Linked DNA regions of Homo sapiens: region 2 is linked to region 1. Evidence: fine-mapped expression QTL. A gene starts in region 1. The other region holds a variant in brackets. All regions are shown on one strand. Distances are from middle to middle. Region 1 holds the start of ELF2 (E74 like ETS transcription factor 2). Region 2 overlaps LOC105379412 (a long non-coding RNA gene).

Evidence for each region. PIP is the estimated chance that this variant, and not a neighbour inherited with it, causes the effect. A credible set is the group of variants that fine-mapping cannot tell apart.
Region 2: its variant is the best candidate, but not a certain one, in a credible set for the expression of ELF2 in whole blood (TOPMed, PIP 0.62).

The regions. Positions count from the first base shown.
Region 1 is chr4:139,173,063-139,181,396 of GRCh38, forward strand. It overlaps ELF2 (E74 like ETS transcription factor 2), which reads right to left and starts at 4,156. Exons shown (of 10, transcript NM_001331036.3): 1 at 3,905-4,156. It overlaps LOC105379412 (a long non-coding RNA gene), which reads left to right and starts at 3,093. Exons shown (of 4, transcript XR_007058273.1): 1 at 3,093-3,286. RefSeq lists an enhancer at 3,127-3,176, silencers at 3,777-4,736, 4,747-5,126 and a cis regulatory region at 5,493-5,617.
Region 2 is chr4:139,204,307-139,212,640 of GRCh38, forward strand. All of the region lies in intron 1 of LOC105379412 (a long non-coding RNA gene), which reads left to right. Among named protein-coding and RNA genes, the nearest start is that of ELF2, 31 kb to the left of the region's middle. The variant C/G (reference allele first, on the strand shown) is at 4,163.

The sequences.
Region 1 (8,334 bases):
TCCAGTAAAAGCAAATGGATTAAGACAAAACCAATCAGTGATTGCCTGAGGCTGGGGGTGGGAATAAGGGTTAACTGCAAACAGGCTGGAGGGAATTTTGGAGGCAATGGAAATGTTCGAAAACTAGCTCAAGGTGATAGATAGTTTCACGATCTATATATTTACTAAAAATTATTGAATTATATACTCAAAATGGATAATTTTTTTGGTATCAGGTAAGTCAAAAGCTAATTTATTAAAAAGTGTACATACCCAAAGAAATGACAACACATCTACACAAAAACATGAATATTCATAGCAGCATAATAGCCCAAAAAAATAGAAACTTAAATGTCCATCAACTGATGCACAGATAAATAAAATGTAATATGTCCATAAATAGAATATTACTCATCAATAAAAAAAATGATTACAGGGTGGGTGCAGTGGCTCACACCTGTAATCCCAGCACTTTGGGAGGCCGAGGCAGGCGGATCATGAGGTCAGGAGATCAAGACCATCCTGGCTAACACAGTGAAATCCCATCTCTACTAAAAATACAAAAAATTAGCCGGGCGTGGTGGCACGCGCCCGTAGTCCCAGCTACTTGGGAGGCTGAGGCAAGAGAATCGCTTGAACCCGAGAGGCGGAGGTTGCAATGAGCTGAGATCGTGCCACTGCACTCCAGCCTGGGCAACACAGCGAGACTCCGTCTCAAAAAAAAAAAAAAAAAAAGACTATAAAAAATTTTTTTAATTAAAAAGGATCAGGTGCAGTGGCTCAAGCCTGAAATCCCAGCACTTTGAGAGGCCAAAGAGAGAGGATTGCTCAAGCCCAGGAGTTCAAGACTACCCTGGGTAATATGGTGAAACCCCATCTCTATAAAAAAGAAAATAGATTAGCCGGACGCGGTGGCTCACCCCTGTAATCCCAGCACTTTGGGAGGCCAAGGCGGGCGGATCACGAGGTCAGGAGATCGAGACCATCCTGGCTAACACGGTGAAACCCCATCTCTACTAAAAATACAAAAAAAAAAAAAAAATTAGCCAGGTGTTGTGGCATGCGCCTGTGGCAGGAGAATCGCTTGAACCGGGTGGCAGAGGTTGCAGTGAGCCAGATCACACCACTGCACTCCAGCCTAGGCGACAGAGCGAGACTCCATCTTAAAAAAAAAAAAAAAAGAAAGAAAGAAAATAGATTTTAAAAAAAAAAGAAATGAAGTACTGACACATATTACAACATGGATATACTTTGAAAGCATTATGCTAAACGAAAGAAGCCAGTCACAAAAGACCGCATTTATGGTTTCATTTACATAAAATGTCCACAACAGTCTAATCTATAATGATAGAAAGTCGATCAGTGGTTGCATAGGACTGGGAGTGCTGAGGGAAAATGAAAAGCGACTGTTAATGGATATGGGGCTCTTTTGGGGGATGATTAAAATGCTGTAAAATTGAGTATAGTGATGGCTGCACAACTCTGAATATACAGTCGGCCCTCCATATCCATGAGTTCTGAATACATGGATTCAATCAATGAGGTACAGAAACTACTCAAAAAAAAATTATGTCTGTAAATGAACATGTACAGACTTTTTTCTGGTCATTATTCCCTAAACAATACACAGTATAACAACTATTTACATAGCATCCACATTGTATTAGGTAGTATGAGTGATGTGGAGATGATTTAAAGCATACAAGAGAATATGCAGAGTTTATATGCAAATACTATGTCAGTTTTATTCATTTTTCCTAGGAGACAGGATTTTGCTCTGTCACCCAGGTTGGTGTCCAAACTCTGGCCTCAAGAGATCCTCCCACCTCAGCCTCCTGAATAACTGGGATTACAGGCACAAGCCACTGCACCCAGCAACTATGCCATTTTATTTTAGGGACCTGAGCATCCATAGATTCTGGTGTCTGAGGAAGGCCCTAGAACAAATCCCCAACAGATACCGATGGACAATTGTAGTAAAAACCACTGAATTGTTCACCTGCAAAATGGAGTAATTTTTTAAAAAATTAATAAACCCACCAAACTGTACACTTTAAACTGAACTGACTAGTATGTGAATTATATCATCGTGAAGCTGTTACTCCTCCAAAAATGGTATACAACATGAGCAGGTAAAGCCACTAACATTAGCAGACCCTACAGGCCACAGGTACCAATCTGTTTACTTAGGACAGAAAAATCCCAAAGTTACAAATTCTTTCCAACCATACTCAAGCTGACTATTTTGTAAATGAGTATTTATGTCTGAAATGAAAGGCAATGATAAATCCAATGAGTTAAATCACTAAACTTAAAAATAGGTTGACATAAATATTCAAACTTCAAATGCCCAGGATATTCCAATTTTCTATTTCATGTGTTTAACTACTAGATATCGTCTCAATAATATTTACATGAATGTACTCTGTAAACTGTAATGCTCTATAAAAAGTTTTATTATTCCTAAATTCCCTTAAATGTAATTTAATGGTTTCCAGTCCTATATAAGTCATTCTACCTTTTGAAGAAACTCTGAAACACAAATATCCAATCCTTTCTTAGTAAAGCATACATCCTTCCGTGATTCTGGCACCAAAGAAAGTGCATAATTTACTTCAGGATAGAGAATCACAGATAAAAAGGAAAACAAATCTGATTATCAAACACACGATTACTATTCTCTCATCACCGGATTACAATTTAAACCATTAAGCTGAAGTAAATGTTCATGAACACAAGAAAGGGGGGAATTTTTAACAGTTTTACAATGACGTGTCCCCCTCTTCCTCATTTAATGAAGTACTAAACTTAAAGGCTATTCTGCAGCGAATCTGCCTCCTAGAAAGAGTCCATCCAGGATGCTGGCAGAGGGAAAAAGATTAGAAACTGTGCGATCTGGATTATTCTTGGTGTCACGGAATATTTTTTGAGTCCTTTATGGACATGGAATAAAAATGCCCAAATGGAGCAGAAGAGAGGGCTCGGCTACCCTGATCACAAAGCTCCTGGGGTAGAGTCAGCATCCAGCCCTGGCAGAGCCCTCCCTGTCCTCCTTCCGCGCCCCTAGACCATCCCGTCGCGCGGTCCCTGAGGACCAGCTTCGCGAGGATCCAGAAGGCGGTCACTGGACGTGCCTGTTACGAGCCCGTTTTTGTTTTGCTTAAGAAACAGATTCCGATCCGAGCAAAGCCTCCCTACCTCCCGGGGAATAGGGGGAGATGGCAGCACGGTGCCGGCGTGGAGAGCGAGAATAAAAGAACTGCCGAGTACAACCTGTCGTGCAAGCTAGCAGCGCCGGGAAGGAAAGGTAAGCGGCGGCGATAAGGCACGACAGGGAAGGAAACTGGTGTCCAGCGCCCCCCCCCGCCTGCCCGCCACCCAGAGCGGCCGGAGCCTCCCAGGTCCCGCCCCGAGCTCGCCGCCCAGCCCCGGCGCCGGCCGCAGACTCCCGCCCTACACAAACCCTCCCAGGACGCGCTTCCTCCGGAGCCGGACCCCCGCCCTGGCCTCCCCGCGGGATGAGGCGGGTCAGTTCAGTCCGCTTCTCGGCAGAGGTGACTCGCGCAGAGATGTAAACACGGAGAGACCAGCTGCGCTCGGCCCATCCCCCCCGCCGGGGTCTGTAACCTCTTCCCTCAGCCCTGCCCCGCGCCCCGCGCTCCCCGCGGGCAGGCGCGCAGCGCGCCTTCCCCTTTCTCCAAGTCCCGCTCCGCGACCGTTGCCTGGGGACACTCAGCCCCCTTCCCCCAGCCCCCGGCCGGTGTCACCGCCGCAGCCGCCGGAAAACCCCTCCGCAAACCCCGAAGCAAACAACACAAGCGCGGGGCGGGGGCGCGGAGGGAGGCGGCGGCAGTCGGGACAGCCAGGCTTTATCGCCGCGCCCTTCGCGCTCCCTCTCACCAGCCTCGGCTGCCCGCGCTCTTACCTGCTCTCCGCGACGCCTGGGAAGACCGCGGCGTCCTTTTCCCTCTCAGCAGGGCCGCGGACTAGCCGCCGCCGTTGGCCGAGCGTCCGGAGGGAGCCGGGGCCTCCCCAGCAGCCCGAGCCGCTCCACAGGGAGAGAAGGAGACAAAACAGAGGCTCGCCGCCCCGCGCAGCGACCCCCGCCCGCGCCGCCCCACCGACCCCCAACCGCCTAGGCGACGGCGGCGACACAGAGCTTGGCGCTGGGAGCAATGGTTGCCCCCGCCCCGCTCCGCTCCCGGCCCCCTCCCTCCACCCCCCGCCTCGGCTCCTCCCCCTCGGCCTCCTGCCGCCTCCACCAGGACACTGGAGTCCGCCTCCCCCTCCCCGCCAGCTCAGAGTGCTCCTCCCCTCCCCACGCGGCGGGGGGGCGGGGGCGGCACCGCCAGTCACCGCAGCGCCTGTCAAACGCGGGCCGGCTATTTATACCCCGCGGGGCCCCGCCGCCCTCGGGCCCCCACCAGCCCGCCGAACCTGCTTCTTTTGCTGTCTTGAATCCCGCCCTCTTCTCCTCGCCCAACTTCTCCCAAACCCGCCTTCCCAGGTAAAGACGCTCGTCACTTGTCCGGCTCCTTGCCCAGGGCTCCCCGATCTCGCTCTCCACTCCAGCCCCGGATTGGTGCAGGGGGCTCTGCCGCACGGGGCAGGCGTGTGAGGCCGATGGGGCCGCGCGTGCACCTGCAGCGCCCGCCGGCTTTCCCCCGCCGGCCGGGACCGCACGCACACACCCTCGCCACTCAGGGCCCCCGCAGGCCCCGCCGTCACCGCATCCCCAACTCAGGACTCTCGCCCTTCTCCGGAGACGGCCCCACAGTCGGGCAGTCTGACAGTTACAGGGGGGCGAGGTTTTGCAAAAACTCCTAGCCCGGTCTTTCCAGTTCCCACTCCTCAGCCTTGGCTTAGTGAAAGGTGGGGGTTCGGGCAGGAGCGCGACGCCGGCCCCGCCCCGGCCGGTGACGCACGTGGCGCACCGCCCCGCCAGCCTCGCGCCCCTCGGCGCCGCCAGCTCCTCCTCCCCGCTAGCAAAAGCCGGGCGTAGTACACCCGCGACCCCGCCCCATTCCCAGAAATTACCACCCGCCCAACAGCCCGGCCGCGCGGCGGTTGGTGCCGGCGTTTGCTGGCTGTCGGGTGGCTGGGCCCAGCGCGCAGCTGCGGAGCGCGGCGGGCGGCCCCTTGGAGCTGCCCGGGGAGCTGCGGGCACTCGCACCTAGCCATTGTCGCTCCTTGCGCGGTCCGCAACGGAGAAGTAACTCAAGTCTGAGTGTTGTTGGTGCGAGAATGAGAGAGTGTTCTGGTGTGGGAGTATTTTGGCCCAAGTGCCTGCGAATTCGAAAACGAAAACCCAGCAGTGGCTGCACGCTTCTGGTTTCCACACTTTCACACAAAGGGGAGCCTTCGAGCGGGGCACTCTCACGCGCCTTCAAGTGCACAAAAGCCAATGACACGGTGCCGTGGGTTGCCCTGTGTAGGAGCGTCTCTTTAATGGGCTTTGTAGGCACAGTTAATGCATACAAACGCCTCAGTCTATTTCTTCACCACCACCATTCCCCGCCGCGGCGTTTTCTGTATTTGTTTCTTTAACAAAGAGCACAGCCTGTCCGGTGCGCGCGGGGCTCCTTTTGCTCCCCTCCAGGGCTCCTGCAGCCTCGCCGCGATGGACCTGGCACCTGGCGCGGTATTCACCAGCTGATTTCTGGGCTCCAGCGTTACCCTTTTTACGGCTTCACAACCAGTCTGGAGCAAAGAAGAAACACTGAGGAATATAAGTGATAGCTGTTCTCTTGAAAGGGACGTGGGAACCGTGGAAATCACCCTAGAGTAAGGCTCAAATGTCAGAAAGCTGCAGGAGGCTCCAGATTTAAATCCCTGAAGAGCCTAAGAATGTAATGATCTCTTTCTTTTGTTAATACTGCTGTTGCCTCTATTTTCTTGGGGGTGAGTCTTCTCTTCCTTTCTTAAAAAGCAACTCTGGGCCGGGCGCAGTGGCTCACGCCTGTAATCCCAGCACTTTGGGAGGCCCTGGAGGGTGGATTGCCTGAGGTCAGGAGTTCGAGACCAGCCTGCCTAACATGGTGAAACCCCGTCTCCACTAAAAATACAAAAATTAGCTGGGCGTGGTGGCACACGCCTGTAGTCCCAGCTCCTCGGGAGGCAGGAGAATCGCTTGAACCCCGGAGGTAGAGGTTGCAGTGAGCCGAGATCGCAACACTACACTCCAGCCTGGGCGACAGAGCAAGACTCCTTCTCAAAAAAAAAAAAAAAAAAAAAAAAAGGCCGGGCGCGGTGGCTCACTCCTGTAATCCCAGCACTCTAGAAGGCCGAGGCGGGCGGATCACCTGAGGTCAGAAGTTCAAGACCATCCTGGCTAACACGGTGAAACCCCGTCTCTACTAAAAATACAAAAAATTAGCCGGGTGTGGTGGTGTGTGCCTGTAATTCCAGCTACTCGGGAGGCTGAGGCAGGAGAATCGCTTGAACCCGAGAGGCGGAGGTTGCAGTGAGCCCAGATCGCACCATTGCACTCTAGCCTGGGCAACGAGAGCGAAACTCCGTCTCAAAAAAAAGCAAGTCCGAGGGCTCTTATTCTTATTTAAGAAATTTTTACTCTTGAACACAGAGGAAACCTGGAGACCGTGACTGTTAATCAAAGATCCTCTTAACTCTTGACAAAGTTTTCTGGATTCCTGAGTTCTAAATCATGGGACTGTTGACACCCTTTTGAACTAAAGAATTTGTAACAATTTGGTAACATTCAAATCTTTAATACACAATAAACAGGATTCTGCAAACAGAGCACCCTTTCTAAGGGAGTCTTTTTATCTCACTTCTTGTAAATAACTTATCACTTATGGGAACCATTGCCCAATTTGATATTTGTAAGGAATTAATTAATAATCAATAATATTGCATCTTCATAACATAACATAGCATACTAAGGAGCCGGCAAAGACAAAGACTGATTCCTGTTGTTAGGGACAGATATCACCTGCCAAGTCACATAATTTCTGTTGTCAGCCACGTTGAGAAGAAATTCTCTCCCACTGCCGATTGGCAGTAAGCTGGAAAGTCCCAGGTGGATAACAGTGGTAGATAACATTATTGTTCCCAATTTTTCACTACTCCATGCATGCATGCCATTTGAAATACGGCTTTGTAGTTCCTCTCAGTAGAGATAGGATGTTTCTCCATCCTGTTCATGTTGAGCTTAGATCAGTCCATTTGCTTTTGGTCAAAGGAAGATAGGCAGAAGTGAGTGTGACAGTTCTGAGCCTGGCCTCAAGAGGTATTTCATGTTTCTCCTTCCCTCTCTGGCACTCTTGTTTTTCACAATGTGAAGAACATACCTGGCTAGTTTGCTGGTCAAAGAAATATGAAGCAGGTCTGAAGCCAGTCCCAGCTTGGGGTCAGCAACCTAGAGAATAAAGGATTGTTGTTTCAAGCCGTGTTTTGGAGTAATAGCGTTTTGGAGTAATAGTGTTTTGGAGTAGTTGGTTCCTGGAATTAGTGTTGTGATAGCTGACTGAAACAACAGCAGAAAGAGCAATCTGCTTCCTTCATATTGGCCTGCAAGGTGCCTAACTTGGTGTGTCTCAGGCAGCTCTTTGGCTATGGTTCTTAAACACATCCCTTATGGAGGCCAGCGGAGTAAGGAACCCAGAAATTTTACAGCAAGCTTGTCCAACCCAGGGCCTGCAGGCTGCATGCGGCCCTGGACCGCTTTGAATGCAGCCCAACACAAATTTGTAAACTTTCTTAAAATACTTTTTTGCGATTTTTTTTTTAAGCTCATCAGCTATCATTAGTGTTAGTGTATTTAATGTGTGGCCCAAGATAATAATTCTTCCAGTGTGGCCCTGGAAAGCCAAAAGATTGGACACCCCTGGTTTACAGTAAAGCATTCTAGAGAACAGGGGTCAGAAGGAAAAGTCTAGTGTGACCAGTAGTCCTAGTAGCAAGCTAATGATCATGGAATAGGAAATCTCTGTTGTAACTGGATTGCTTTTGCTGTTTTTTATGTTATATAGTTTTTTATGTTATATAGTTTATTTTTTAATTATTTTTATATTTTATTTAATTATTTTTATTATAGTTTATTTTTTAATTATACAATGATTCATTAATACATTCTCATCATCAATTTTCAAATAATTCAAAATAAACTTTTTAAAACCCAAGTTCACCTTCCCTCTCCATTTCCCTTCCCACTTCTCACTTACCCTTCACACTTACGCAGCCATCCCCTACCTCTACTTTTCCACAGATAACCATAAATGAAAATTTAGCCTTTAAGCTTCTAGGCCTTTTTCTGTGCATGTATATACATATACATATATTTATATACTAAATATAAATGATTATATGCATATTAGGTATAATGCTTTTATACTT
Region 2 (8,334 bases), 31 kb after region 1:
TAAATCACTTAAAATTTTTTTCCTGTACTTCTGTTTTAAGGCTATAAAACAACTGCTATTCCTCAGACACCAGCCTCTCAGATTTTTACCCTTAGTGCTTTTGAATATTGTCTTTGCAATTACTAAAGACAGTGTGCAAATGACTTCCCTGATCCCCAGATACATATATCAAAAGTAGTTTAATGATTTTGTTGAAAATGAAAATAAAATTACTTTCACATTGAAACTTTCCTTTCTTATTCTTATATCCAAAGGTGGGTGGCTGGGGAAGGAATCTGTAAACATTTGGAGTGAAAAGGATATTCAGTAATTTTAGTAACTGTTAATAAATTATTTTAAAAGTTAACATAGAATTGGGCTTATTTAAATTAGATGGCTGTGCATTTTAGACACATTATTAAATTTGCCGCTTAACTGATTGGTTGCGTATTTTTCCATGACCAAAAAATACGTTCTGGATGTATGATGTCCACTAGCAACTTAGCCATATGTGGCTTTTGAGCACTTTTAATGTAGCTTGTCCAAATTGAGATGTGCTATAAGAGTAAAATACTCCTTATTTCAAAGACTTAGTACTAAAAAAAGAAGGTAAAATAGGTTATTAATAACTGTTCATTGATGACTTGATATCAGGTAATATTTTGAATTACTGAGTAAAGTAAAATATACTTGAAAAATTAATTTCATCTCTTTCTTTTTACTTTTTAAAAAATGTAGGCAGGGTGCGGTGGTTCATGCCTGTAATCCCAGCACTTTGGGAGGCCAAAGCAGGCTGATCACGAGGTCAGGAGTTCGAGACCAGCCTAGCCAACATAGTGAAATCCCATCTCTACTAAAAATACAAAAAATTAACTGGGCGTGGTGGCAGGCACCTGTAATCCCAGCTACTTGGGAGGCTGAGGCAGGAGAATCGCTTGAACCTGGGAAGTGGAGGTTGCAGTGAGCCGAGATTGTGCTGTTGCACTCCAGCCTCGGTGACAGTGTGAGACTCCATCTCAAAAAATAAATAAATAAATAAATAATTAAAAATGTGACTACTAAAACATTAAAAATTACCCACAGAGTTGGCACTCCATTTCTGCTGGACAGTGCTGCTCTGAACAGGCTTTCTTACAGCAGGAAGAGCTTAGCCCTTGTTCAAATGTCCTGCAGTGGGGAAGAGTGTGGGCAGTTCTCTTGGAGAAGGAAAATCTCAGATGTAAAAATCAAGAAATTATTCTTACAGTGGGATATTGAAATATTTGTTTTGAACTGTATGACCCTAAAATTTGCTCTATCATGTTATGAAGTTTTACTTTATTGATTTAACCAGGAAAAACTAAATTCCTGACCCTCCTCCCAATAATTTACCTACAATATTTGAAAAGTAATTTTCCAATGTAGAAAAAAAGCATAAACTATGATATTTTTCCTTCTAGAATAGAATTTTATAAAATTTATTGAAAGACTTTCATGTTAAAAAAATTAAAATGGAAGGAAATGTCAGTAAGACAAAAACTATTTGCTTCTTCATAGTCCAGCCTTTTTGTCCATTTCTTTAGAAAATGAAACACAGAGCTGGGCACAGTGGCTCATGCCTGTAATCCCAGCACTTTGGGGAGGCCAAGGCAGGTGGATCACTTGAGGTCAGGAGTTCCAGAGCAGCCTGGCCAACACGGTGAAACCCCGTCTCTACTAAAAAATACAAAAATTAGCCGGAGGTGGTGATGCATGCCTGTAATCCCAGCTACTCAGGAGGCTGAGGCAGGAGAATCGCTTGAACCCGGGAGGTGGAGGTTGTACTGAGCAGAGATCACACCACTGCACTCCAGCCTAGGTGACAGAGCAAGACTCCATCTCAAAAAAAAAAAAAAAAGAATAAAAGAAAAGAAACACAGAAAGGACCTTTTCAGTTACTTCTTTCCTTTGTTTACACTTGGCACTTATATTTAGTATGCAGTCTACCTCTTTCAGTCCTCTCAAGTCCACCCCTCCTTTGCAACATCATTCACAAATTCTACCTTATGCACCAAATCCCAGTTGCTTTCCAGCATGGAAAGAGAAATCACACAAATATTCACTTCCTTCCTGACTTACAGTTTTCCTTTTCAAATTGCAATTGGGTTTCATTATAAATTCTCATCCACCAATTGTCCCTCTATCCTTCTGCTTCAGTTTTCTCCCTCTCCCTCCCCTTCATGCCATCTTCTCTCTCCCTCTCCCCTCCCTCTGGTGAGCATGGTGTTTGAAGCTCTCTGACTTGGTGCCCCTCTTCTGTTTAAATCTTTCAGTACACACCTAGGCAAGTTATTCTCAAGCAGCCTGAAATAGCTTTAAACTGTTGGGAACAAACCTAGTAGAATTCAAAAGGACTTCATTTGTATTACCCTGACAACAGCATGTCTGAAAATTAGATTTGTCTCAGCCAGGCGTGGTGGCTCACGCCTGTAATCCTAGCACTTTGGGAGGCCGAGGTGGGCGGATTGCCTGAGCTCAGGAGTTCGAGACCAGCCTGGGCAACATGGTGAAACCCTGTCTCTACTAAAATACAAAAAATTAGCTGGGCATGGCAGCGTGTGCCTGTAGTCCCAGCTACATGGGAGGCTGAGGCAGGAGAATTGCTTGAACCCAGGAGGCGGAGGTTGGAGTGCGCCAAGATCGCGCCACTGCACTCCAGCCTGAGTGACAGAATGAGACTCCGTTTCAAAAAAAAAAAAAAGAAAAAGATTTGTCTCATTTTCCAATATCTTTTAAATTCCTAATATTTCTGATTTAGTGACTGTCAACAGTCTTTTATAGGTCAACAAAACCAAGTTTGCTTGCTTTCTCCTGAAACAGGGTATACTACCTATCTTGTTACACCAATGTTGAAATTTTTTAAAGTTGTTCTGACAAGAGAATGCTTGTTTAAATTTGTACCATGTCTTTTTGATGACACTCCCATTGCCTCCTCTCTTTATTTGCTGCAGTGGTGGAGGGGAACAGAGGAAAACATATTTCCTTCTAACCGGACTATAACTGGGTGGGAAGGGGTAAAAATGCTAGTTCAGAAGCATGTGGGGCAGAGACACTCATAAAATAGAGAACGGAAGTGCTGTCAAGGACACACTGTGAATGGCCACTCAGAGTTCCTTCCTCAGCATGCCTTTGACTTCACTTCTGTCCTCCATGACCCAAACTCAAATGGACAAAGCAGACTCCCAGAACTGACAATCCGCACTGTGAGAAGTGAAGGTAAATTAGTCATCACTTTACAGGTTTCAGTTTGTAAAGTGTCCTTGACACTTGACCAAATTTAACTATGTTGTCAACAGTGGAACCAAGGTGTCTTGGTTATGTCTTATACCCAAAAAGTGGTAATTCCTATAGATAATGTCAACCTAAATATATAAACAGAGAGAGGCTCTCTAAAAGAAAATATTTATTCAGGAATAGGACATTGCAGTGGGAATATGCATGCCATAGTAAACAATATGCATATTCATGGAAAGTAAAGTGTATTAGGGTTCTCCAGACGGGCAGAACCAATAGGATATATGTATGTAAAAACAGGAGTTTATTAGGGAGAATTGGCTCACACAATTAAAAGGCAAAGTCCCACAATAGGCCACAATAGGCCCTCTGTAAGCTGGGGAAAGAGAAAAGCTGGTAATGTGGCTCAGTCCAAGTCTGAAAGCCTCAAAACTAGGGAAGCCAAGAGTGCAGCTCTCAGGCTGAGGCCAAAGGCCCAAGAGCCCCTGAACGCCACTGGTGCAAGTCCCAGAGTCTAAAGGCGAAGATCCTGGAGTCTGATGTCCAAAGGCAGGAGGAAAGGAAGCAAGTATCTGGCATGCGAAAGGAGAATGAGAGAGAGAGAGAGAGAGAGAGAGCTCAGCAAGCTGAACATCCCTTCTCCCGCCTGCTTTGCTCTAGCCGCGCTGGCAGCAGATTGGATGGTGCCCACCCACATTGAGGGTGGGTGGGTGGGTGTGCATCACCCTCTCACAGTCCACTGACTCACATGTCAATCTCCTCTGAAAACACCCTTCAGAAATAATGCTTCACCAGCCATCTAGGCATCTCTCAATCCAGTCAAGTTGACACCTAATATTAACCATCACATAAAGAAAGACAAAGGTTTTTAAAGAAAACATGAGAAGGATTACATAATTGTTTTGAGATAATTATCCTTGGCTACAAAGAT[C/G]AATAACAAGGGTGACGTCAATCCAAGGTTGGACAGGCAGTTGCTGAGCAGATGTCCTCACAGAACATCTGCATGATGGCCTTTGTGCAAGATTGTGGTTTTTGCAGAGTCTTTTGTAATAGTTTCTGTCATCCAGCATTTATTCATGAGAAAACACTTCCTTCACGGCCTTCCCTAGCGCTATTTGTCAGGGTTTGGTTTTTTGGGTTTTTTTTTTGTTTTTTTTTTTTTTTTTGGTTGTTGTTGTTTTCTTTCTTTCTTTTAACAAAAGTGACTCCATTTTGATTCTGACAGTTTTCACAATAGGATTCTCATGGTTAAGAGATAAGTTTGCTTTCTTTTTTTTTTTTTTTAACAGAGTCTCACTTTGTCACACAGTAGCATGATCAGGGCTCACTGCAGCTTTGCTTCCACCTTCTGGGCTCAAGCAATCCTCCATCCTCAACCTCCCAAGTAGCTGGGACTACAGGGGTGCACCATCATACTTGGTTTTTTTTTTTTTTTTTTTTTTTTTTGGTAGAGACAAGGTCCCACTATGTTGCCCAGGCTTGTCTTGAACTACTGTCCTCAAGCAATCTTCCTGCTTCATCCTCCAAAAGTGTCGGGAGCTCTACCACTGTGAAAGTAGTTAAGTATAGTACATAATGGTTAACATCATTTTAGCAATCTTAAAGTGTATATTTTGGTAAAAGCCACAATTTCATAAGAAAGCAGTCAGGCATAGTGGCTCACACCTGTAAATCCAGCACTTTGGGAGGCTGAGGCAGGAAGATCACTTGAGCCCAGTAGTTCAAGACCAGCCTGGGCAACACAGTGAGACTCTCTCTCTACAAAAAAATTTTTAAAAAATTAGCCAGGCACAGTGGCTCAAGCTTGTGGTCCCAGCTACCTGGGAGGCTGAGGTGGAAGGATTATTTGAGCCCAAGAGATCAAGGTTGCAGTGAGCCATGATCCCATCATTGCCCTCCAGCCTGGGGAACAGAGCAAGACCCAGTCTCAAAAAATAAAATAAAATAAATATAAATGTAAATAATTTAAATGTTTTAAATTGTGGTAAAAAAAAAAGATAATATAAAATTTACCATCCTAACCACTTTAAGTGTTAATCAGTTCAGTAGGGCTAAGTAGGTTCACACTGTTGTACAACAGATATTCAGAACTTATTTAACTTACGAAACTGAAACTCTATACCCATTAAACAGTAACTCCCCATTCCCTCCTCCCCCCAGCCTCTGGCAGCCACCCTCTACTTTCTGCGTCTATGAATTTTACTACTCTATATACCTCATATAAGTGGAATCATACACCAATTGTCTTTTTGTAACTGGCTTATTTTTCCTAGCATAGTGTCCTCAAGACTTATCCATGTTGTAACATGTGACATAATTTTCTCCCTTTTGAAGGCTGAATAATATTCCATTGTATATATATATACCACATTTTATTTATCCATTCATCCATTAATGCACATTGGGGTTGCTTTCACCTGGTCTATGTAAGATTTGTTTTTTGTTGTTTTGGATTTTTGTTGTTGGTTTTTGAGACAGTGTCTTGCTCTGTCACCCAGGCTCAAGTGCGGTGGCATGATCATGGCTCACTGCAGCCTCAACCTCCCAGGCTCAAATGATCCCTCTACCTCAGCCCCCCAAGTAGCTGGGACTATAGGCGTGCGCCACCACACCTGGCTAGTTTTTGTATTTTTTGCAAAGATGGAGTTTCACATGTTGCCCAGACTTGTCTCGAACTCATGAGCTCAAGCAATCTGCCCACCTCTGGCTTTCCAAAGTGCTGGGATTACAGGCGTGAGGTACCACGCCTGCCTGGCTGTAAAATTTTTTGTTATAGCAATATTATTAGTGTGTTCTGAATTAGCTAGCTTGTTTAAGATTGAAGGAACACACACATGGGTTATCATCAATGACAGAGTGTATTGCAAGGATATATAAGGATTTGGGGTTTCAAGAAAGGCAGGTAGCTCTGGAAATTGCCTCATCCAGCTGCATTATATTTCATGAGATTGTGCAAAAGGTACTACAGGAACCAGGATCTTTATTCATAACAGCAATCTTATCTAAAACTATTCATCTTCTTCTTGGTATATCTAGTATTTATATTTCCCAAAAGAGATGTTTTATTTGAGTGGACTTGTCATCATTTATTGCAGAGTATCATCCTTGGACAAGAGTGCCTGCCAGAGTGCTGCAAAGCCAGCTGGCCCTCATCATGCTTTATGCTACTGCCTTCAGCCTGTGCTTCAGTCCTTAATCCCATTTGCTGTGACTAGGAGAGTGGGGATGGTTTTTCTTTTTTTCTTTTCTTTCTTTTTTTTTTTTTTTTTGAGACATGAGTTTCACTCTGTTGCCCAGGCTGGAGTGCAATGGCATGATCTCACTCACTGCAACCTCCACCTCCCGGGTTCAAGCAATTCTCCTGCCTCAGCCTCCCAAGTAGCTGGGATTATAGGCATGTGCCACCATGCCCAGCTAATTTTTTTTTTTTTTTAATTAGAGACGGGGTTTCACCATGTTGAACAGGCTGGTCTCAAACTCCTGACCTCAAGTGATCTACCCATCTCAGCCTCCCAAAGTGTTGGGATTACAGGTGTGAGCCATCACGCCCAACCCAGGGCATGGCTTTTCTTATAGTGCATACCATAAGCCAAAGTAGCTCAGATAGGAAGCAATCATTTAGTTTCTACTTTAGGATGGAGCTCTAAATTTGTATGCCTATACCTTATAGAATATATATATACATACATACACACACACGCACACACACATAAATTTGAGTCTTGTGTTTTCCCCATTCTTCCCCTTAGCACCTAACATTTATTGATTTATTCATTTATTCACCCATTTTATTTGTACTGACATTGAACAAAAATATGTCAAGTCCTCTGGTGTTCAGTGCACTTCATTAACCTCCTCCCACCCATGCTCTCAGAGACCCTGGGAGGCAGGTAGTATTCATGTTGTGAACCTAGTCAGGATGGTTTTCCACATCAAAAATCAGAGGTTTGGCTGGGCGCAGTGGCTCACGCCTGTAATCCCAGCACTTTGAGAGGCCAAGGTGGGCAGATCACCTGAAGTCAGGAGTTCCAGACCAACCTGGCCAACATGGCAAAACCCTGTCTCTACCAAAAACACAAAAATTAGCCGGGCGTGGTGGCACATGCCTGTAATCCCAACTACTTAGGAGGCTGAGGCAGGAGAATCACTTGAACCTGGAGGTCGGAGGTTGCAGTGAACCGGAGATTGCGCCATTGCACTCCAGCCTGGGTGGCATAAGACTCCATCTCAAAAAAAAAAAAAAAAAAATTCAGAGGTTCTATGCTTCAATCCTTCAGAGTGCTGATTTCTTAATTAACTAATTAACACATTAATTAATGTGATAAAATGCGAATGTGTTAACTGGTATATTATTAATACGGTATGTTTTCCAGGTAAATTGTTTGCTCTTAAAATAAGGCCCTTCTGGACCCGGTGCGGTGGCTTACACCTGTAATCCCAGCACTTTGGGAGGCCAAGGCGGGTGGATCACCTGAGGTCAGGAGTTTCAGACCAGCCTGGCCAACATGGCGAAACTCGGTCTCTACTAAAAATAAAAAACAATTAGCCAGGTGTGGTAGCAGGCACCTGTAATCCCAGCTACTTGGGAGGCTGAGGCAGGAGAATCGCTTGAACCCGGGAGGTGGAGGTTGCAGTGAGCCAAGATCACACCATTGCACTCCAGCCTGGGTGACAAATCGAGACTCTTTCTCAAAAAAAAAAAAAAAAAAAAAAAGACCCTTCTGAAGACAATGCTTTCACCCAAAAGACTGGCTACATAATTTATGGCACCTAAGGCAAAATGAAATGCAGGGCCCCTTGTGTACTAACTCAAAAATTATTAAGAATTTTAAGATGCTGGCCGAGCACGGTGGCTCACGCCTGTAATCCCAGCACTTTGAGAGGCCGAGGCGGGCGGATCATAAGGTCAGGAGATCGAGACCATCCTGGCTAACACAGTGAAACTCCATGTCTACTAAAAATACAAAAAAAAAAAAAAAATTAGCCGGGTGTGGTGGCGGGTACCTGTAGTCCCAGCTACTCAGGAGGCAGAGGCAGGAGAATCGCTTAAACCCGGGAGGCAGAGGTTGCAGTGAGCCGAGATCATGCCACTGCACTCCATCC